2 separate regions of the Homo sapiens genome follow, and region 1 is linked to region 2. Evidence: fine-mapped expression QTL. Tissue or cell type: whole blood. Region 2 holds a variant in brackets; the other region holds the start of a gene. All regions are shown on one strand. Distances are from middle to middle. Region 1 holds the start of PHF11 (PHD finger protein 11). Region 2 overlaps SETDB2-PHF11 (SETDB2-PHF11 readthrough).

Region 1 (10,687 bases), 30 kb after region 2:
TGTCACCCAAGCTTGGAGTGCAGTGGCATGATCATGGCTCACTGCAGCCTCAACCTCCCCAGCTCAAGTGATCCTCTCACCTCAGCCTCCAAAGTAGCTGGGATTACAGGTGCATGCAACCACATCTAGCTAATTTTTAAATTTTTGTGTAGAGGAGGGATCTTGCCATGTTGTCCAGGATGGTTTCGAACTCCTAGGCTCAAGTGATCCTCCCTCCTGAGCCTCCCAAAGTGCTGGGATTACAGGCATGAGGCACCATGTCCTGCCTTAATTTAATTTTAGAATTAAAATATTGGCCGGGCGCGGTGGCTCACACCTGTAATCCCAGCACTTTGGGAGGCCGAGGCGGGTGGATCACCTGAGGTCAGGAGTTCGAGACCAGCCTGACCAACATGGTGAAACCCTGTCTCTACTAAAATTACAAAAATTAGCCGGGCATGGTGGCGGACACCTATAATCCCAGCTACTCGGGAGGCTGAGGCAAGAGAATCACTTGAACCTGGGAGGAGGAGGTTGCAGTGAGCTGAGATTGCACCACTGCATGCTAGCCTGGGCGACAAGGGCGAAACTCCTCAAAAAAACAAAACAAAATGAAACAAAAAAAGAATTAAACTATTCATGAACATAGAATAAATTGTTTTGTAATGTATGAGATGGGAATCTAACTTATATTCATAATGGTTAGCCACTAATTTAAAATCTCCTTTTCATATAGTTGGATCTGTTCCTCCTGTGCTTCTGTTTTATTCCATTGAACAATGCTACACTTAAAATTTTCAATGTTTTAGAATATATGTTAATATTTGACAACACAAAGTCCCCTGCCCTAGGATGAAACTGGGGGAAAAACATCCCAATATTCTAATTACCTCAGACCCAAAATCTACTTTGATAGAATACTGTGTTCTTATTAAAGGACACTCAAAACAGACATTAAAACTTGTAAAGTACAGGCTTAAAAAAAGCCAGTGGGGCTGGGCGTAGTGGCTCACACCTATAATCCCAGCACTTTGGGAGGCCGAGGCAGGCGGATCACCTGAGGTCGGGAGTTCAAGAGCAGCCTGACAAACATGGAGAAACCCCGTCTCTACTAAAAATACAAAATTAGCCAGGCGTGGTGGTGCATGCCTGTAATCCCCGCTACTCGGGAGGCTGAGGCAGGAGAATCGCTTGAATCTGGGAGGTGGAGGTTGCGGTGAGCCGAGATCGCACCATTGCACTCCAGCCTAGGCGATGAGAACAAAACTCCATTTCAGAAAAAAAAAAACCAAAAAAAAAAAAAAACAAAAGTTGGTGACTCCCAAATTAAAAGCGATACTATCTGACAGGATATGCAGCTGCCTCTTGTTGTATAAGGGCTGAACATTTTTGTACAACATTGCTTGTTTCTGTGCACTGGGCAGAGCTGTCAAGTCACTGATACCTGAGCTGAGCTCCCAAGTACTTGGGTTCCAAGAGTCTTGGCATCTGGGAATACAGAGGTGGTTTGTATTCTCTGACAACGGGGAATACAGAGAAGAACAAGACAGACAAGACAGATATGCTGACAACACTGCTGTGCTAGACCCAGAGTTTGTCTTCAGTGCAGATGGATTAAAAACATGGGGTGGGACCCACAGGTTCTCCCTAGTGGCTTTTTCCTGCTAAATCCCCCCATATCACAGTGTCTTAATGGATTTCGGCTCTTCTAGCTCTTTTGATCTTCTAGACTGGAGGAAGTGTGTAATTCTCTGCAGTTGGAGGAGTCACACTGAGGACTTTTACACAGGCATCTCTCACTATGGGAGTCACACTGAGGACTTTTACACAGACAGGCATCTCTCACTATCTGAACTCTTGCTATGTGTTATCCGAAACTCATGGACCACATACATTTGGACAGTTTGGTATCCCTCACCATCTGAACTCAGGAACTGTACAGATTCAGAGAGGGAGGGATACCTAAAGGTGTGTCATGAAGGCTGAGGTATTTTAGGGAAGAGCCCATTGGTTTTCATCAGTAGCTGGGACCAAGAATAGTCAGCAGGGCTTTCCAGGCTCCTTTCTAGGGGGGTTTAGCAACCCTGAGGACTCACAGAGCCTGACCCGACAAGATTGCAGAATTTTAGAATTCTCACAAATGAAACTGAGAGCCAAGAAAGTTTATACAGAATGAAACCACAGAAAGATCACAAGCCTGGAATATAAGAACTATGACTAATTCAAACAACACAGTGATTCTTAATCTCTCCGGCAATCTGCAGGCCCTCTTCAATGTGGAAATGGATTGCCGAGGCTCTAGCTTCTACTCTTAAAGCCCTCCAGCCAAGGGTAATCCACCCAGGGCACAGAATCTGGGGTAGCCAGGAAGCGTGGTCAAGGAACACATTCTGCCACTAAAGAAATGGGTGAAACAGTTGGAATGGGATTCACTAATCCTATCATTTCATTTAGAATCCCCTTCCAGTATAGATTTGTTCTGGACTGGTAGGTAACTAATTTATGGTGCTGGTTTGGAGATTTCCTCCTTTCTTCTCCTTTTATCATTAGTGTTTATTGCAATTTACTATTTTAGTTCTTCCACTGTTTGCTGGATGTGTAGAAGCCAATTTTATCACTGGTCCAGTGAATGCCTACCTGAACTGGATACAGACCAAAACAGTAGACATTACCTAGAGGCTTGGCAAGGAACTTGGTAATGGCCTTGGAGAATGAATGGTTCCATCACATTATCTCAGGATGAAGTGGCTAGATATGACTTTGGCAGAAGTTAAGTGTGACTGAATTTGGTTTTGGTATAGCTAGAATTCATTACTGGGAACAGAATGCATCACTGGGAATATCTTTAGAATGTATAAATAGGAATAAGGATGTGTGTGTTATAGAGGAGGGACCATGGGGAGCCTAAGGATAGGATATTCAATGGACTCCTTTAGGGTATCTGTTCAGCTCACAATGATGCGTACACAATGACCCCCAGCAGGCATGTTTGTACTTCATTCCTCTAGACATAGCTGATAGTCCCAGAGGACCTGCTCATCTCTCAGATATACAGAATTCAGGATAGAAGATTTCAGTTCAGATTGGGCTGGTTTCTTAAAGAAGATGTAAAAACTGAGAGGCTGCAAGGGCAGCCATCTTCTATACCATCACCAGGAAAACTGGACCAGAGAAAGAGAAGAACAAAGCAGATACACTGAGAGATGCAGAAATAAGAGATAAAGGAGAGTGTTGTCAAAGTTTATAATGGCTTCTCAGGTCCTAGTCCTCAGCCCTTTCTGTAAGATGCTAAAGTATCCATGCTCTGGGGGTCTGTGAGTCTGGTTTTCCTGCTTACTACTACTAAGCATCCCTCATGCTTAAATTACATCAAATTGTTTTTGTAGTACTTGCAGCCAGTACGTGCTTATTAACACTGGAAGGACCATGACTTACTTGATCTGTGTGTGTGCACTCACATGTTTATATGTGTGTGTGCCCATGTGTGTTTAAGAGAAAGACAGTGCTGGCAGCGGTGTGGAAGGTGGACTGCCTTACCCTCAGGGTCTTTCACCTAGTCTATTCCAGTGATCTCTTGTCCTTGTCTCTATTTTCCCTGTCATGATCCCACTGCATTCTTTATATTACTGTCAGAATGATCTATCTGAAATGTATTACGTTACTGTCAGAATGATCTACCTGAAATGCACTATGCTACTGTCAGAATGATCTACCTGAAATGTACTAGGTTACTGTCAGAATGATCTACCTGAAATGTACCAGGTCACTGTCAGAATGATCTAACGGAAATGTACTAGGTTACAGTCAGAATGATCTATCTGAAATGTACTAGGTTACTGTCAGAATGATCTACTGGAAATGTACTAGGTTACTGTCAGAATGATCTACCGGAAATGTACTAGGTTACTGTCAGAATGATTTACCAGAAATGTGCTAGGTTACTGTCAGAATGATCTACCGGAAATGTACTATGTTACTGTCAGAATGATCTACCTGAAATGGACATCTGCTCATATTTCCCCATCACCTACAGAAGTCAAGCTCCGTAGTGTTATATACAAGTACATTCATTCCTTCAACAAATATTTAATGAGGACTTACTATTATTTAATATTTAATGAGTACCTACTATGTCCTACTACTACTACTAGGCCAACCAGTCTAGGCACTAAGGATAGAAGAGAGTAAGACGAATTTACATGCCAGTGGCCAGTGGTAGAGACAGGCATTAAACAAGTTTTGTTTTGTTTTCCAGGTAGTGATAAGTACTATAGAGAAAGAATAGAGCAGAAGGAGGTAGAGAGTGACAGGAGCAGGGGCAAGGGGTGCTCTTTTAGACAGGATGGGCAGGCAAGGTTGAGGGAAGATGTATATGAGCAGACACCTGAATATGATGGGGAACTGAAAATGGGATAATGTGGCAATGAGTTTTCCTTGCAGAGAATAGCAAATGGAAAGATCCTGAGGCAGGGACAGCTTTGGTGGCTTAGAGGACCTACAAGGTAGCAGGGTAGCAGAGTCATTAAGATGGGCAGGAGTCAAATCAGATAAGGACATGGGGTAAACTGCAGGCCAGGCTCATAGATTGTTCTGAGAGTCATGGGAGACTATTGGTGGGTTTTGAGTAGGAGAATCACATTTGCTTTTTGTTTTTCAAAAAGCATTTTGGCCGCTCTGCAGGCCTGCCTGTATTAAAGGCTAGAATAGAAGCCAGGAAAGCAATAGTCCAGACAGAAGATCATGATGGCGTAGGCTTGGGTGGCAGTAATGGAAGTGGTGAGAAGCAGTCAGGCTCCAGATACAGTCAGGCTGAACACAGAACTGGCTGGCCCGACTGATGCATTAGAAGGGGTGTCCGGAGGAAAGAGAGGCCCTGAGGAGCCACTAAGGTTTTTGCAAGGAGCACCTGGGCGAATGGAATGGGCTGGTGGTTGAGCAGGTTTGGAGTACCTGAATACAGTGGAGGAAACAAGAATTCTCTTTGGGACATACTCAGTTTGAGATCATTTCAGAAATGGAAGAAGTTGGTTATACCAGTCTGGAGTTTGAGGAAGAGGTCAGGATGGAAGCGCATCTCCCGTGACTTACCTTACAGTCCATATGTATACCAATGAATGAAATATCCAACTGATTGGCTTGTGGTTGCCACGTATGATGTTTACGTGTGACGTTTTGTGGTTTGGTGCCTTTGTGTCATCCTCTCTGCTGGGAACACCCCTTCAACTTTTCCACCTTTGGCTGAGTCTTGCCCTTTAAAGGTAAGCCCATGAAACATGGAGAAACCCTCTCTACTAAAAATACAAAATTAGCTGGGCGTGGTGGCACATGCCTGTAATCCCATCCACTCGGGAGGCTGAGGCAGGAGAATCGCTTGAACCCGGGAGGCAGAGGTTGCAGTGGGCCGAGATAGCGCCTTTGCACTCCAGCCTGGGCAACAAGAGTGAAACTCCTCTCAAAAAAAAAAAAAAAAAAAAAGGGTAAGCCCAGCCATCCTCTCCTCAAAAAGCTTTCCCTGAAGACTGGGAGTCAGGAGTCTCTCATCTGTACCTCTGTGGTTCTGACCTCCTCATTAAAGTTGCCTAGTAGAGTCTCTAGGGCAGGGTCTGCCTAACTCATCTTTGTATGCTCAGGACCTTGCCCTGAGCCTGGCACACCGTTTGGAGCTATACACACACGCAAGGGCAGGAACCCATCAGAAGACCCACCCACTCAAGTAGAGGGCCGGGGAGGACTGGAACGACTGGAGAAGGGGAGACGGGTTCCAGTCACGTCCTCCGTGAACGTGAGACCCAGCTCTTCCCTCAGGGCCGCCCCCTGCCTCACCGCATCAGGGCGCCCCTCCACTGTCCTGGTTTACCGGTGAGCGGAGGGGCGCTAGGAGAGTTGACATCGGTTGTGGTGGAAGCACTGGGCTGTCACCCGCGGGGGAGGTAAACCGAAGCGTGCCCACCACTCGCGCGAAACCATGGGCAGTCAGAGCCACCTGTGGAACTGGCCTGGGCCGCGCCCTGTCCTCTGGCCCCCTCCCCCACCAACAGGCACGCGAGTGGTGAGCCAAGTTCGTCCAGCGCCGCCCCGGCGTCTAGGGCCCCGGCCCGGAGTAGGGGCAGGTCGGGCCCCCATGCGGCCACGACCGGAAGGCAGGCCCCTTGACCGGGCCCGTCGCTGCCCAGCCCCGCCCGCCCGCCCGCCCGCCCCCGCGGTACACACCGGTGGGAAGGAGGAGCGCCTCCTGCGCGGGCCGGGCCTCCGGGCTGCTGGCGCCGAGCACCCTCTCGGGCCGGGGCGGCGACGCCTGGGCCATGACTGTGCTGCAGCTGCGGGTGGCGGCCGGATAGCGAGATCCCGGAAGTGCCCCAGCTGCACTAGGTTTCGTTTTCTTAAATCTGGGCTGTCGCTTTGAGTCACTAGCCGGCCCGGGGAAAGTTGGGTGTGCAGAGAGGGGTTGTCACACACACTGCTCCAGATTCCAGTCTAGTCTTAATTTGAATAGCTTAAAAAACCCAAACGCCGGGAGCAGTGGCTCACGCCTGTAATCCCAGCACTTTGGGAGGCCGAGGAGGGCGGATCACGAGGTCAGGAGTTCAACACCAGCCTAACCAACATGGTGAAACCCCGTCTCTACTAAAAATACAAAAATTAGCTGGGCATGGTGGCGGGTGCCTGTAATCCCAGCTACTCCAGACACTGAGGCATGAGAATCGCTTGAATCGGGAGGCGGGGCTTGCAGTGAGCCGAGATCGCGCCACTACACTCCAGCCTGGGCTACAGAGCGGGACTCCGTCTCAAAACAAACAAACAAACAAACACACACAAAAAACAAACAAACAAAAAAACCCCAAACGCCAGGCTTCCCTACTCCACCCCCCACAACACAGCGGGAGAAACAATCACTCTCCTGAGGGTTCCTCCTAAAAACTATCATACTGGCCGGGTGGGCGCGGTGGCTCACGCCTGTAGTTCCAGGACTTTGGGAGGCCGAGGTGGGCGAATCACGAGGTCAGGAGTTCGAGACCAGCCTGGTCAACATGGTGAAACCCCGTCTCTACTAAAAATACAAAAATTAGCCGGGCTTGGTGGCGGGCGCCTGTAATCCCAGCTACTCGGGAGTCTGAGGCAGGAGAATCGCTTGAACCCGGGAGGCGGGGGTTGCAGTGAGCCAAGATCGCGCCACTGCACTCCTGCCTAGGCGACAGAGCCAGACTCCCTCTCAAAAAAAAAAAAAAAAAAAAAAAAATTATCATACCGAGTTTGGCTTAAATAAGCATATCTTAAAAGGACGCAGAATTAGCCGATCCTAAATCCAGTTGCCAGTAGCAAGCCTTTATTTAGCACCCATAGGGTACAGAGCACCATACAAGATGAGGTTTTCAGTGAATCTAACATAAATGCATATAATTATAGTTAAAAAATAAGTTGTTCTGGAAAAAAGACATATAATAGTTGGTGGTTTGCTGAGGAATTAAAGGAAAACTGGAGGTCTTCCACTTTCAGCAGGTTGTAAAGAGGAAGACTGCCAACTAGGGATAGCAGAAGAGAGAACATTAAAAAGGACAATTTGTATAGTCTTGACAACTATGAAATGAATTGCAGAAGAGTGTGGGGTCTGCAAAACAGGGAAGTGAGCAGACAGACCCTAGCAGCCAATTTTTAAATTTTTTTTTGCCCTCCATGCAGGAGGATGAAAGAGTATTTCTTGCCAGGCCAAAATGAAAGGCCCTTTATAAAGAGACTGACATTAGGGTGTTCCCCAGCAAGATAGCTCAGGTAGGTCATAGTAAAACAAAGAGCCCTTTACCACACTCTCAGCTTATAGTAAGCTTTTTGGTGTTCCACACTTAAATATGAGTAGACTACCAAGACCATTAACTCTGAGGAAAGCCTATAATGTGAACGACCAAAACAAACATACAGGGGAAACAAAGAAACAAACCCTGGAGGACACAGATTATGCCGAAAGAATACAGAGATGCATGCCTGTATGTGTATGTATACGTGTGTGCATATACATACATAAACACACAAACATCTTCAAGGAGATAAAATACTGCAACCATGAGCCAAAATAGGATGCTATTAAAAAAAAAGAATATTCGGAGAAGGGGAGCTCTTAGAAATTAAAAATATGAGACAATATGAGACTAGAAAAATAAAATGCAACAGATGAACTGGAAGATTAAATTGAGAAATGCTCCTAGGAAAAGGTCCTAGCAAGAAGACAGAGCTGAAAGTTAAGAGAAAAGATAGGAAAATTAGAGATCAAATTCTGGAGGTCTAACATCTGGAAAACAGGAATTCCAGAAACAGTGAAGAGATGGGAAATCATTAGTTTCAGACGGAATGATCCCACCAGGCACCTAGTACAAAGGATGAAAATGGACTCTTAACAGGGACAGAACATTGAGACAAAGATAAACCTATAAGCTTCAAGAGAGATAAAAATGGATTATATATGCAAAAGAGAAGGAACAGAATGGCATTCAATTTCCAGTAGTCACCCTGGAAGCCAGAAGACAGATTTTCAGACTCCACAGCAACAGCACTGAAAGCTAGCAGATGTCTTCAAAACTGGGCATGGAGACCACTAAAGAATCCTATACCTTGCCAACCAAAACAGCAATCAGGTATAAGGGTAAAATAAAGACATTGTCAAACACACAGAGATTCAAAACATTTACTTTTCATTTTTCCTTTCCAAAAGCTATTGGAAGAGCTTTACCAATATGTGGAAGAGTAAACCAAGGAAAAGGAAAATAATGGCATCTAACTGGAAACAGATCCCACATAAGAGACAAAGTGAATCTCTGGGGTACTGATGGAAGATGATGGCTATGAACCAGTCCAGACTAAAGCAAATCAAGATTTTAGGAGAAATTTCTCCAAGAAGATAAAACTGACAGAATACCTCATATTTCTAAAGGTCAAATGGACTCCACAGGCAGAGCTCAAAGAAATACTGGCTGATCCATAATATTCCCTTTTGCACAAAAATGGTTCCCATACTGATCAAGCTTTTTTCCCCCATTTCATTTTAGTGCATTGCCTGAAATTCCTGCGTCTCTATGGTGAATAAATGGATTTCTCAACTTTCTTCATCTGTAGGTTGCTGGGCTATGTTTTGCTCCTTTTCCTAGCTGTCTGGTTTCCCAGTCTGCTTGGGCTTCCCAGTCCCCTTTTCCACTAGATAGATGATCACGGCCAAGTAACCTATGGCAAAGTGCTTACTCTTTGCCTTTTTTCTGTAAAAAAAAAAGATTTGCAAATCATGCCCAGGAGATACCAAGGGGCTGTTTCAGATTTCATAGTTCAGAATTGTTTTCGTGTGTGTGTGTGTGTGCTGTTTTTTTTGAGAGAGAGTCTTGCTCTATTGCCCAGGCTGGAAGTACTATGGTGAAATTATGTCTCATTGCAGCCTTGACCTTCTGAGCTCAAATGATCCTCCCACCTCACTCCTGAGTAGCTGAGACTACGGGCACATGCCATCATGCCAGGCTAATTTTTGTATTTTTTGTAGAGACAGGGTTTTGACATGTTGCCCAAGCTGGTCTTGAACCCCTAGGCTCAAGTAATCCACCTGCCTCGGCCTCTCAAAGTGCTGGGATTACAGGTCTGAGCCACCATACCTGGACTTCTTGTGTTTTTTAAGTGAAATTTTTGCCCAGTACAATTACTTCTGGCCTAAATAAGCAACGTGTGACTACTTTCTAGGTTTCCTTTTCAGTAACTGTATCTCTATCTAGAACAAAAATATTCAAGTTCCTCCAGGTTTCTATTCCCTCTTCTCCTATCTGTTTGTATAGAAAGAGTAGAGAAAATCTGTGGGAAAGAAGACTCATTTCAAAGAGCTTGCCAGAATCTTACTTACAGAAGAGCTTCTCCCTCTCCCCACTCAAATGGTTGATGGGACAGTGTTTTATCGATCCAGATATTGCTTCTCCAACAAGTGTTAAAATACTTGGGAGTAATATGCATAAAATTAGATCCTCAGGCGCTGTTGCCCACCTTGTAGCTCATAATGGTAAATTATTTGCCAGGAATTAAAAATCAATTTTGTAGGTAAAAATGTGAAATTTAGCTCTTTGGGGGGGCATGAACTAAAAGGTAACAGTCACAAAAGCAATTAGAAACAGCTGAGTTCTGTTATGACATTTGTTTCTCTTAATATATAATTTGTAAATAAATTATAAATTGTACAGTGGTATTTCATATAAAATATACACTTCCATCCTACTCATGTAAAGTAGCACAGCAGTGAACAAGATACCCTATGTGTATGAAAATATCCTAATTGTGTTCCTGGAATTTCTAAGTCACACAAATAAAATCTGAAATAAAACATAAACCCCATGACAAAGGAAAACGGAGGGGAATTTCCTTGATGGACCTAGACCTTCTTTTGCATGGCTTTAATTTCAGCCTGATAAGCTAATTTCACAAACAGGCGTTAGTTACATATTTATAATATTTTTTTTCTACATTTATTAACCCCACATTGGCAGAAGATTTCCTTCTCAGGCACAGTCCCAGCTTCATAGCCATAATCCCATGTTAGCTCTGTTCTTGCTTTCACATACCTAGAAAGTAGAAATTTGAAAAGAATCATAAAATACCCTAAATAACTACCAATGAACCAAATTATATCAATTTTCATATTAACATTAACCATCCTCAAAAATATGATCTGTTCTCTCACCCAACATCCACCAAT
Region 2 (12,760 bases):
CTCCTGGGCCACGTATCAACAATCTTCTGACAGCAGGAGCAGTGATAGTTGGGGAATTGTGAGATGAATGGAGAGGCCCCATCGTGAATTAAAGATGCTGACCTGGGGATTGTTAAGTGCTGCCTTAGTTGCTAGTTTAGTAGCCTTACTGTGAAGGAATAATTAAGATTGTTTCAGACTTTTGTTTGTGTGCTTGCGTTGATGACTTTTTTAACTTCAAGATAAATCAAAGTAATAAGTTTAACGTATATTAAACCTGTTGAAATGATAATTATGTAAAGATAAATATTCTAGGTTAGTCAAGATTTCTCTTAAGATTTAAGTGCATAAAGAATAGTAATTTAGAAGTATCCGTGAAAAGTTGATAATGAAAGAAATTTGATGAAGGTGAATATTTTATAAATTAGAATCTCCACTACTTATCCAATGGTGTTTTATTTCATTAAGGTAGAACTTGAGAACTCAAGTTTAAATTGTCCCCCACCACCTTCTTCTATAAATGCAAACTTAAGAGGAAAATAATGACATGTATAGTATACTCTTGCCTTCCTAAATTATGACTGCTGAATCATCATATCTACTATATATGACTGGAAGAAGTGGTTCTTCAAGTCAACCCTCTTACAAGACTTAGTGGAATTTGCTTTATCTACTTTAGGCCAAATCCATCACACATTGGCTTATGTGAAACTTTATCATCTTTCACTTTTGGTTTTCCTCTGTTTTTAAACATCTTAGGTATAACAGCACAATTTCACCTTGAAAAAGCACCAAAATTATGGTGTTCCTGAAAAGATCCTATTAAAAGACAGTAGTTTATTTGAACTGGTTATGGAAGGTGACTTTGGGATGTAAGAGTGTTCAACTGTGAGTTTCATCATGTGTGTCCGTTGAGCTTGCTTTTAAGAGCAATGTTTTGCTTTGCTCTCTGGTCCATGAACTCATTTCCATTTGAGTGAGTTCCCTTAGTGAATTTTGTCTCCTGCTTGGAAAGTCTCTCTTCTGAACCTGGAGCCTGAATACATTTTCAGAGCCAAATTACAAGTGGGTGAAGACATGCTACAACTACTATTTTTAGCAATGTTTTTAAATTTGTGTCTATTGGGGTGGGAAGGGGAGTGAGGCCCTAAAGATAGGAATTCACTGATAGCTGAAATAGATACAAGCCTAGGAGCCCCAGCCCCCTTTTCTTGACCATATCACAAGTGATTGAAGCCCAGTGAATTAGTCGGTTAGAATTCGTTCTACAACATGATAGAACTTTTCTTACTAGCTTCAGAAATGCACATTGATTTGTGCTATGATGGGTGGTGTTTGTAACAATCACTGTTCTATAGGCTTATGATCTGAGCAAAATGTGAACTTCAGTATGTTTACTATTGCTCTTACTTGAAAACTTTTTTTCAAAAAAAGCACAAATTAAAGTAGTAAATTCATATCCATAGATAGTTCATTCATTCAACAAATATTTACCAAGTTCCTAATATAAGTGAAGGACCACTTCTCATATTAGATTACTAAGTCATTTGTATGAATATGTGTGGCAGTGAAGAGAACAGGTCTTTCAAAAAGCATTTGATTATTTTTTTTAAATACACTCTCTTATTTTTCTACTTGTTTTTTTGTTAATCATAGCAGGATATGACAACTCTTATTTGAATTGATTTTTTCATCTAATGTAATAATGGAAGCCAAAGTATTCATATTTCTTAAGATAGCCCTAAATGTACTCTTGAACTTCTTACTGGAACAATGTTTGATACTCTAGTATGTAAGCTGTATTTATGTAATATTTAGAACGACATGTTAATAAACAAAGTAACATTAAAACAGGCACATAGAGTTGTTTTTTTCCTTCAAAATCAGTAGTCTGCAGCCTTAAAAAGGAAAGAAATTCTGACACATGGTGCACAGAGGTGAACTTGAGGATATTATGCTGGGTGAAATAAGCCACTCACAGAAAAATACTATGTGATGCCATTTGTGTGATATACTTAGTCAAATTCATTGAGACATAGTAGAATGGTCATTGCCAGGGTCTGAGGGGAGAGGAGAATGGGGAACTTGTTTAATGGATACAGAGTTTCAGTTTTCCAAGATGAAGAGTCCTTTAGGTCAGGGGTCCCCAACCCTCGGGCCACAGACCCATATTCATCCCTGGCGTGTTAGGAAGAGGTCGCACAGCGGGAGGTGAGTGGCGGATGAGTGAGCATTACTGCCTGAGTTCTGCCTCCTGTCAGATCAGTGGCAACATTAGAACATTAGATTCTCATAGGAGTGCAAACCCTACAGTGAACTGAGTATGCAAGGGATCTAGGTTGTGTGCTCCATATGAGAATCTAATGACTGGTGATCTGAGGTGGACCAATTTCATCCCAAAACCATCCTCCCCACCCCTGACCAACCGCCCCATCCCCATGGTCCGTGGAAAAATTGTCTTCCACGAAACCAGTCCCTGGTGCCAAAAAGGTTGGGGACTGCTGCTTTAGGTGCATGGTGGTGATGGTTGCACAAAAATGAATGTTTAATGCCATTGAACCATACATTTAAAAATGATTGGGATGGCAAATTTTAGGTTATATATATATTTTACCATAATAAAAAAAATCAGTGGTGTGATTCTTAATGGGTATCAGGCTAAAAATAGGTACCAGCATGAACATGTCAACTGCTTGATTCTCAACTATACACAAACAAACATCATAGAAATCTTTGGATTTTATTCCTGCTGAAGGGTAGTACAGTTGAACTGGCACAGTAGAAAAATGTGTCTGTACCTTTGGGGGTACTTGAAGGGAAAGGCATATTCCCTATCCTCAAAGAACATATGAATTATTAGGAGAGAGGGAGATAGGTTTAGGAATTAACAACACAATGAGATACTTATAAAGAGCTTTTCATAACAGTCAGTGAGAGAAAACCAAATAGGATGATGTGGTTTGGCTCTGTGTCCCCACCCAACTTATCTTGAATTGTAATCCTCAGTTGTTGAGGGAGACCTGTTGGGAGGTGATTGGATTATGGGGGCGGTTTCCCCATGCTGTTCTCATGCTATTGAGGGAGTTCTTATGAGATCTGATGGTTTTATAAATGGCAGTTCCCCCTGGGCTTTGCGTGCTCTCACTTACTTGCCACTACGTAAGACGGGCCTCTTCCCTTTCCGCCACAATTGTAAGTTTCTTGAGACCTCCCCAGCCATGCGGAACTGAGTCCATTAAACCTGTTTCCTTTATAAATTACCCAGTCTCTGGTATTTCTTCATACCAGTGTGAGAACGGACTAATACAGTTAATAGGGTTAACATGACAAGCAGTTAGTTGTTCTGAAGATAACGCTTGTGTTGGATAGGGGAAAATATAAAGTGTCCTTTTAGCTCATCTCCAAAACAAAAAGAGGCACAAGAGATGGGGGCTAATGAGCCTTCCAGAGCTTATCATAATTAAGTTTGGTTAGAATGGAGAAAATAAGACAGAAATGTTAGCAAGGGGAGTGTGTGCGTGCATGGGTGTGTTTTAACATTTATTTCCCATAGTGCCAGACATTGTGCTCTCTGCTTCACATTTTACTTACTTGTCCATATTTTGTCCCATAAGGTAGGCAGCAGCATTCTCAGATTAAATAATCGGATTCAAGTTTTTCAGTAGTGACATAGCTGAAGTTCATACTCGGCTCCGCCTTATGAACCCATACTCGGGTTTGCCCAGTAGCCAGCCTCATGGCCACCAAACACATGGTGCTCCATGGTGCACAGTTACATGCTGTGTGAGTCACAGGTTAAACGTGAAAGTAAAGTGGGGGACAAAGGTTTTTTTTTTTAAATAAAGATCATGACATCAGAATGATTAGTCAGATAAACTTTGCTAAGATGGCTGGGCGTGGTGGCTCACGCCTGTAATCCCAGCACTTTGGGAGGCCGAGGCAGGCAGATCACGAGGTCAAGAGATCGAGACCATCCTGGCCAACATGGTGAAACCCCATCTCTACTAAAAATACAAAAATTAGCTGGGCATGGTGGTGCGCGCCTGTAGTCCCAGCTACTTGGGAGGCTGAGGCAGGAGAATCGCTTGAACCTAGGAGGCAGAGGTTGCAGTGAGCCGAGATCACACCACTGCACTCCAGCCTGGCAACAAAGTGAGACTCCGTCTTAAACAAAACAAAACAACAACCAAAAACTTTGCTAAGACTTAATATCAGGATAGGAAGCTGAAGCTACAGTAATCAATAATCATCTAGACTAGCGGAAATCTGTTCAGAGGGTGTTGGATGGGGTCTTCACTTCTGTAGTTTTTAAAGTGCCCCACATGATTCTGATGTGCGGCCGGATTTGAAATCCACTGGTTTAGATTTTGTCCCTAAGATATAAGAACTTAGGCTAGGGCTGCCATTACAACTGGAATGGACTGTTCTTTTTCATCTCCTGCAAATATTTTTCCAGTACTTATTTATTACATGTCAGACACCATGCTTGGAGACTCAGTTAAAACCCATTTTGAGACGCAGCATTATTGAAAATCAGAGTACCATGGTAAAAAATGAGAACTGTGAATGTTAAGTTTTCAGGGGTCAGACGTGATAGTGTGGGCATAAAAACCAGAATCGTATATTAGATTGAGAAAAATGTAACTGTCAATTTTTTTTTTCATTCTTGCATACTCCCGATAATGTTCTTATTCAGAGTCCAATTTAAAATTTAGGTGTCTGTTTTGAAGATGATGAATCTCCACGTGATAACTGTGGCTGAAAAGAGACTTTTCAAAAGCAGACTTTGTGACACGAAAACAGGCAAATTTGGTACAAGTAAAGTAGTATAATCCAAATTTATTATATCTAAGAGGCTATCATGGGCTGTAAGTAGAATCAAAGGTTAAGAACATTTTATGCACTTATTCCACAAACATTTACTGAGCATACTAGGTGCTGGGAATGTGACAGTGAGCAAAAAACACAAGAGTGTGCAAAGAGTGATCAAAATGTCAACCAGTAAGAACAGGGAAGAGCTGCTGAGGCCAAGAGGAGACGACTAGTTCTAAAGATGTGTGGATTTCACAGCCTGGTCTCTGGTTTTGAGCCTGATTGCAATTTGACATGACTCTTGGCTTAGGAAACGGTAATCCCTAATAAGACAGGGATGATATTGATGTAGAACTTGACATAAGATCTCTATTTTCTTGAAAAGAGCACAAGGTTTGTTTTAAGTCCTGAAGTAGCTCAATCTCTTCCTTCAACTGCTGCCACCTTTGTTGAGATGCATGAATTTTTTTCTCTATTGCTATGAAAAGAAGAAATAAAATTATTTCAGCTTATTCAGTAGTTTTATTAGAAATAATGTACCATTTCTAGCCCCTTTCACTTGCAGGTACAGATACACAATCCTCGTGCCTCTGGTGAAAAGGATCCAGAGCCTTATGGGCAGGAGCTGGTTTCTTTATGCCTTCACTTCCTCCTTCTAATTCAGGACAGAATTCTAACATTTATCATACACAAAGCTGTTCAGTAAACCCTTAAGATTTTGTGCACATTTATAGCAGAACAAGTCCCTTTGT[A/T]TATCTTTGAGAACTTGAAAACAGTGACTGTATAACCTTCATGCTATACTATATCCATTTATTGAGAGATGATAATTGGAGAATGTGGCTAGAATACCAAGGTTAAGGACAAATCCTTCCTAAAAATGTGTCCAATTTTTAATGTTACATAAAGGCTTTTGGTTTCATTTAGAAATAGGAAGGCTTTTAATTGTGGAAACTTAGAAAAGCTTAGGAGGAAGATACTTAGGCTTTATAAATAACAAATAGTAGTCAATGGCAATGTAATTTTTAAAAGCCTCAAAATCGAACAGTTACACACATATACAAACTTTATTCAGAATAACTGCATACGTATAGTTAACTTAAAATATGAGTAAGGCTAAATTAAGCAAGTTTTTATCAACCAGGGTAGTGAAACCCAACTTAAGCCTTTTAAGTTGAATCTCATGCAGTTCTAAGTAGTGGCACCCCCGCCATACTACACTATAATATATGTACTCCCACCTAATCCATCCAAGTAGTGATGTGTGACATGTTCCCTTACATGAAAGAAAAACACACATGGAAGTCCCCTACAAAATAACTCTTTTTAGAAAAAAATTTTTAAGGCTGCTTTAAAAAAATATGGATACTGCTATATATTAGCAGACATCCTCAAAAGACTATTAAGACAGACACTCTTTTTGGTAGATTTTTCAAAGTATTTTTCCTGCTGGTTATAAATGTAGTAAAAAATTCAAATAGAAATGTATAATATAGAAGCCAAAATGAGAAAGGTTGTGTATGTTGAGACAGGGATATGAACTAATGATTTCTTCACAGGGAAATCTTATTGTCTTCCTACCATATGCTGGAGAGACAGATGCATCTGTGGAAATGCAGAGTGTGGAGGGCACTCACTCTGTTGTGCAACTTCAGGGGGAGCCATCCACCAATGCTGTTTGACTCTGTGCCCGGCCTGCCCAGCTGTGTGTGGCAGCCTTGATAGAGAAGTCAGACCAGACTCATAAACAAGTGGAGGTGTAGCCTGTCTTGAGGGCATCTTAATGCTGAAAGGAGGACTCACTCAATAAATGGTTGATATTTAATAGGAAGGTTAAATCTCCCTCCTCCAAACCAAACGAGATTTTCTACTGCAAACATTTCTTGGCTATTCTTACTTGCTCATTTTTTGTTTGTTTGTTTTTGTTTTTTTTTTTTCTGATGAACTTTAAATCAGTCGTAACCCTCCCTGATAAGAAATTAAATTAGATTTGAGGATTAATAGTGGGAGAATTAAAATTTTGACCTATCTCACCAAGCGAGAGGGAGGCAAGCGGAGGGATGGTTTATCATAGCCTCGCCACCCAAGAGCAGAGAAGCCGCAGGAAGCTTTACCAGCTCCTGCCTGGGCCACACACAGGCCAAAATATGCTCCAATTTTTGAATCAATTTTTTGTTGTCTCTACTTTTTTAATGAGTTTTTCTCATTATAAAAGTATTTGTGTGTATATAGAAAATCTGGAAAATATAGCAGTAAAAGAACAGACAAAAATCACTATATTCCAACTACCTACAACCAACTACTGTCTCCACCAGGTGCAGCTTTTGTCTGTGCACATGTACCTCGATATTTTTTTCCTGTGTGTGTGGGCAGGTGGGCGGGGTCATACTGTTTTTGTAATTGGCTTTTCTCATTTAAGAAAACAATGAACATTCTTCTAAAATATTTTTATCACCTGTACAGTATATTGTTTCAATATCGTGATAAATATTTCTCAAAACTATGCTGCTCAGATGTTATATAACTCATATACCTGCTTGAAAATTTACAAATGTGTCTTCGAACAATCTACAGTCAAAAAGTGCACTCCCGATTTCTTCATAGTCTGGAGGGAGAGAAACATTTTCAATATTAAACAGTTTGTATAGGCAGAAACTCCTCCATTTATATATGTAATCCAAAACAGGGGAAAGGAAAGAGAGCAGTCATGTGCCATGGAACTTTAATGTTAGATGGCAACAGCAGCAGCAGCACTACAGGGAAGCTGTCAGAAATGTAATTCTTGGCATTTCTCTTTTTTCTTTTTTTTTTTTTTTTTTTTTTGAGACAGAATCTCACCCTGTTGCCCAGACTGGAGTGCAGTGGTGCGATCTTGGCTCACTGCAACCTCTGCCTCCTGGGTTCAAGCGATTCTCATGTCTCAGCCTCCCAAGTAGTTGGGATTGCAGGCGCGCACCGCCACGCCCGGCTAATTTTTGTATTTTTAGTAGAGACAGGGTTTTGCCATGTTGGCCAGGCTGGTCTCGAACTGCTGACCACAGATGATCCACTCACCTCGGGCTCCCAAAGTGCTGGGATTACAGGCGTGAGCCACCGCGCCTGGCCCCCAATTCTTGGTATTTGTACTGAATCAGAATCTCTGTGGGATAGGCCCAGCTATCTGTGTCCTCACCAGCCCTACAGGTGGTTCTCAGGCACACTGTTTGGGAAGTGCTTGGTCTAGAGGAAATAAATGAATAAAATAGTATAATAAATGAGCTTTTGGAAATGCTTACTATTTATTTCACTTTTTGGTTTTGCCCTATAGAAAATAATCCCATTCAAATAAACATTTTTTATATTGTTGCCTACAATATAAGCTGTCCAGCTTGTCCTTGTAAAATAACTATATTTATAATAAAGGTTTTAAACTCATGGGATATAAGTTATAAGAAAGCTAAGTAAGGCTGGGCACAGTGACTCACACCTGTAATCCCCGCACTTTGGGAGGCCAAGGCGGGCAGATCACATGAGATCAGGAGTTCAAGACCAGCCTGGCCAACATGGTGAAACTCCATCTCTACTAAAAATACAAAAATTAGCCGAGTGTGTTGGCACATGTCTGTAATCTTAGCTACTCTGGAGACTAAGGCAAGAGAATCACTTAAACCCTGGAGGCAGAGGTTGCAATGAGCTGAGATCATGCCACTGCACTTCAGCCTGGGAGAGAGAGCGAGACTCTGCCTCAAAAACAAACAAACAAAAAGCTAAGTAGCTATATACCTGCACATACAAATGGAACTTTGACTTCCCAAAGAGCCCTTAAGAAAGAAACTTCTTTAACAAAGTACATCTTTAAACCAAACATCAGTCAAAACATTAAAATTCCTTCTTCTATACTTTAAAGTTTGAGTTAACCTTATTTAAAAAAGGACACTTGGCTTATTAAGGAATAGAATTGGATTCCAAAATCAAAACTGTAACATAACACTGTTCTCAGATCTTAGCAACAGGAATGCAGGGCGGTGGCAGGGGAGCATATGTGACCGAATCAATCTCTGAATGGCACATTCTCTTAGTGGCCAACCTGTTAGACACCTCTGGAAAATGTACCACAACTCTCAGGGCATGAGGTTACTTTTGACTAAATTACTGAGTTTGTAAATTACCCACATCCTGTTGATTTATGAAGGATAGTAGATCTGGTCCAATTATTTTATTAAAGAATGAGGTAAAGGGCCAGGCATGGTGGCTCATGCCTGTAATCCAAGCACTTTGGGAGGCCGAGGTGGACGGATCACCTGAGGTCAGGAGTTCAAGACCAGCCTGGCCAACATGGTGAAACCTTGTCTCTACTAAAAATACAGAAAATTAGCCAGGCGTAGTGGCGTGTGCCTGAAATCCCAGCTACTCAGGAGGCTGAGACAGGAAAATCGCTTGAACTTGGGAGGCAGAGGCTGCAGTGAGGCAAGATCGCACCACTGCACTCTAGCCTGGGCAACAAGGGCGAAACTCCGTCTTAAAAAAAAAAAAAAGAATGAGGTAAAGGTAAAGAATGACAAGCTGGACAGCTTATATTGTAGGCAACAATATAAAAAATGTTTATTTGAATGGGATTATTTTCTATAGGGCAAAACCAAAAAGTGAAATAAATAGTAAGCATTTCCAAAAGCTGATAGAAGAAAAAAGTAGTATAGGAAGAAAATGGGCCTTTTTTTTTTTCTTGGGTTTGTTTTGTTTTAAATCTAGATCTGGGAGAAGTCTCTATACTTCGAAATATTGCTCTTCATCAGTACCTGATTCTGAAGTAGTCTCATCCATGAGTTTTTCTGGAATTGAATGAACTTTGTCTAATATTTCTTCAAGTAAGTAATTAAGAAGTCCTGCTTCCTTGCATTTCTTAAGAAAAGGAACTTTCACAGTTGCATCTAAGAATAAGACAAACATTTGAGAAGGAAATAGTCTTAGGGCAGCTAATCATAAATTACTTTATGCTTATTTCTTCAGACCTTGCCTAGTGGTGGATGCACATACTTAGTAAAATAATACAGCACCTTCACCCTTTTTATTAATTATAATTTCATCATACCTCATTTTTTTTGGCCAGCTGAAACAATGAATAAAATGTTACAAAAAGTAAAAATGAAAATTTCTCTGCTTACAATAACTATATGAATTAAGAGGCTTTTTTAAACATATAAAACTGTAACTTTTTAAATTTCAATACCTTTTGGGGAACAGGTGGTTTCAGGTTACATGGATAAGTTCTTCAGTGGTGATTTCTGAGATGTTGGTGCACCTGTCACCTGAGCAGTGTACACTGTACCCGATATGTAGTTGAATTAAGAGGATTTTTAAAAATTACCCTTAAGTCTTTGACATAACAGCCCCTGTCACTTCTTGTCACAGTTTGTATGTGTTGTTAGTGGAATGTCTATTTCTTTAAAGAACAGAGAACTACAGTTACAGGGGTCACAGTGTGAGGGGTGACACATTGCTGGATTCTGAGCTCAGGCAAGCCTGTCTGTGTCTTTATTAATAGAAGTCTATCTTTTCTTAATACTGAATGCAATGGACCATTCCAACCTAAGTTATCTTGATATGCTGGGATTACAATAGAGTGGACAGTTGCGATAAAGATTTATACTCATTAATTACCACAAGCCTAGAAGAATAAAGATTTAGGCGGGATACCAAGTTTGAAACAGGTGGGTTGACATTTTTATAAGTATTGTAGGCCATATTTGTTACAGACAACACTTAGCGCAAACCTGTGTGTCTGCCATGCTCTTCTTTCACTTGTCTTATGAATGTATTACATTTCATTGTTTCGGGTGGCTAGGAGAGAAAATCAAGATTGCATTACATTGATTTTAATATTGCATAAAATGAAAACCAGTCTTTTGCTGTGCATAACTAAATGATATGCCTACAGTAAAAATCATGCCCTGGCTGGGCGCGGTGTCTCACGCCTGTAATCTCAGCACTTTGGGAGGGCAAGATGGGCAGATCACAAGGTCAGGAGTTCGAGACCAGCCTGGACAACAGGGTGAAACCTTGTTGCTACTAAAAATACAAAAATTAGCCAGGCGTGGTGGTGCATGCCTGTAATCCCAGCTACTCAGGAGGCTGGGGCAGGAGAATCACTTGAATCCAGGAGGCAGAGGTTGCAGTGAGCTTAGATCACACCATTGCACTCCATCCTGGGTGACAGAGAGAGACTCTGTCTCAAAAAAAAAAAAAAACAAAAAAACCCCATATTCATATTTAGATGTAAACATCAAATATATTTTTGTTTTGTATTATAAAACATTAAGAGGTGTTTGACAAGCACCCCTTGTATAAACAGGAGGAGGTGAAGGTTGCTGGCGCATATGAATTTAGCTTATATGTGCTGATGTGTAAAAACTCAAATCCCCAAAATATTTTCATACATTTTATACATAATCCAGAAATTTATAAGAGCTACAGATTTGGTCAGGTGTGGGTCATGCAGCTGGGAAATACTTGGCTCCATAAGGATGTTTGACTGCACCCTCTGCCCGTTTTAACTGTAAGCACCTGTGGGGTCAGATGCTCTCACTAGTTTGGTGCCAGGGAATTTATAGGAGCTCGGAGAATGTCACCTCCTGAAGGTTATGTGCTTGGAACTTCCAGCTTCATTTTCATGCTCATCTCATCATGATTCTATCATCTAGGAATTATCTAAGAGCTTCCCGACTATGGGATTCTTCCTAAAAAGGCAACCTCAGGAGCAGCCTTAGCTGAGAACACAAATGAAGAATGTTCTTCAAAGGCTCTCTGTTTGGACGATTTGGAAAGTACCTTTCACCTGACATTCAGACTGGTTTAAATAAGGACTCTGTATGAAGAAATGCAAAGCTATAAAAACTAAGTCAAATTACCTGTACATGATTGCCTGAGAGGGGTTTCTTCCTTCCTCTTTTTCTTTTCACTCCTGAAAATTTAGCTAAAAATATAAACCATTTAAAAATTGGAATCCATAAAGGAAAAGATTACTGTTTGACTACATGAAATATACAACTCATATGCCAAAAGTTTTTACAAAGTCAAAAGATATGGCAAACTTCAACTAAGTGTTTGCAGCACTTATGATAAAGGGTTAATTTTTAAAAAAGATATTATAAGTTTAATGCAAAACAGGTAAATAATTGAGTAGAAAAATTGGCACATGGGGAACTCTCTGGGGAGAGGGTTCATTGAATAGAAAAATGAACAAATTGGGTCATAGGAAAACAAATATAATTGGTGAAAAGATATGGGAATGCACTCAATTTCACTCAGAAGATATTCAAAGTAAAACAGACTAATAAGGATGAAGATATTTAATAGATGACATTTGCAAGGATTTGGTTAAGTGTGTATTGCTGGTGCTTTTCCCTGTCAATAAACACTGATTTAAAGAAGTATCTGTAATAGCCTTTCCTGCTGAGTTAAAAGGGTAACGACTGAAAAATGATTGTAGAGGTGCTATTTGGAGAATGTTATCACCATAAAATGCAGTTGGCATGACGCAGAACGAAGTCTTCCAACGAGGTCCTGACTCCACTTCACAATGAACATTGCAGATGTAGTGCTGCTAAGACACTGCTGTTCCACTCATGAATGAAAGTATACCCCATGACTCCAGTTAGCCAGGATCCAGTCTGCCTTAATTAGAACTGAAATGCTAACCATGCATCCTTAGGGAATTTTCACTCAGGGAAGGTGCAGCACTTTTAAAATTTTATCTACTGAAAATTCTTATGGAAGAGAAGCAGTCCCAAAAGTCAAGGCTTTTTCCCATGTCTTAGTTTGGTTCTGTGAGCGTAGGGAGAATGAAAGATACCAGGGAATGGTTCAAAGAGAATAGGTCTTGTTCATAAAGAAGAAAAAATTAGTCAGTCATATCACATAGTACACAAAGAAGTTGTCAATTTTCTAGATGTGTAAAATTTTAACTCAAACATTTGTATTTTAATTCAACGAGGCT

The links.
Region 1: it holds the start of PHF11, and the variant in region 2 is fine-mapped to the expression of PHF11 in whole blood (INTERVAL, PIP above 0.99).

The regions. Positions count from the first base shown.
Region 1 is chr13:49,491,598-49,502,284 of GRCh38, reverse strand. PHF11 (PHD finger protein 11) reads right to left here and starts at 6,332. Exons shown (of 10, transcript NM_001040443.3): 1 at 6,190-6,332. The coding sequence starts at 6,283. All of the region lies in intron 12 of SETDB2-PHF11 (SETDB2-PHF11 readthrough), which reads right to left. It overlaps SETDB2 (SET domain bifurcated histone lysine methyltransferase 2), which reads right to left. Exons shown (of 14, transcript NM_001160308.3): 14 at 7,282-10,553. The coding sequence ends at 10,436. RefSeq lists enhancers at 5,751-5,800, 6,291-6,530, 6,841-7,526 and a silencer at 5,991-6,270.
Region 2 is chr13:49,521,020-49,533,779 of GRCh38, reverse strand. It overlaps SETDB2-PHF11 (SETDB2-PHF11 readthrough), which reads right to left. Exons shown (of 21, transcript NR_135324.2): 16 at 11,673-11,737; 17 at 10,539-10,605; 18 at 9,564-9,695; 19 at 7,843-8,007; 20 at 7,322-7,393; 21 at 4,804-5,269. PHF11 (PHD finger protein 11) reads right to left here. Exons shown (of 10, transcript NM_001040443.3): 6 at 11,673-11,737; 7 at 10,539-10,605; 8 at 9,564-9,695; 9 at 7,322-7,393; 10 at 4,804-5,269. The coding sequence ends at 5,115. It overlaps RCBTB1 (RCC1 and BTB domain containing protein 1), which reads left to right. Exons shown (of 13, transcript NM_018191.4): 13 at 1-1,834. Among named protein-coding and RNA genes, the nearest start is that of PHF11, 31 kb to the right of the region's middle. The variant A/T (reference allele first, on the strand shown) is at 5,544.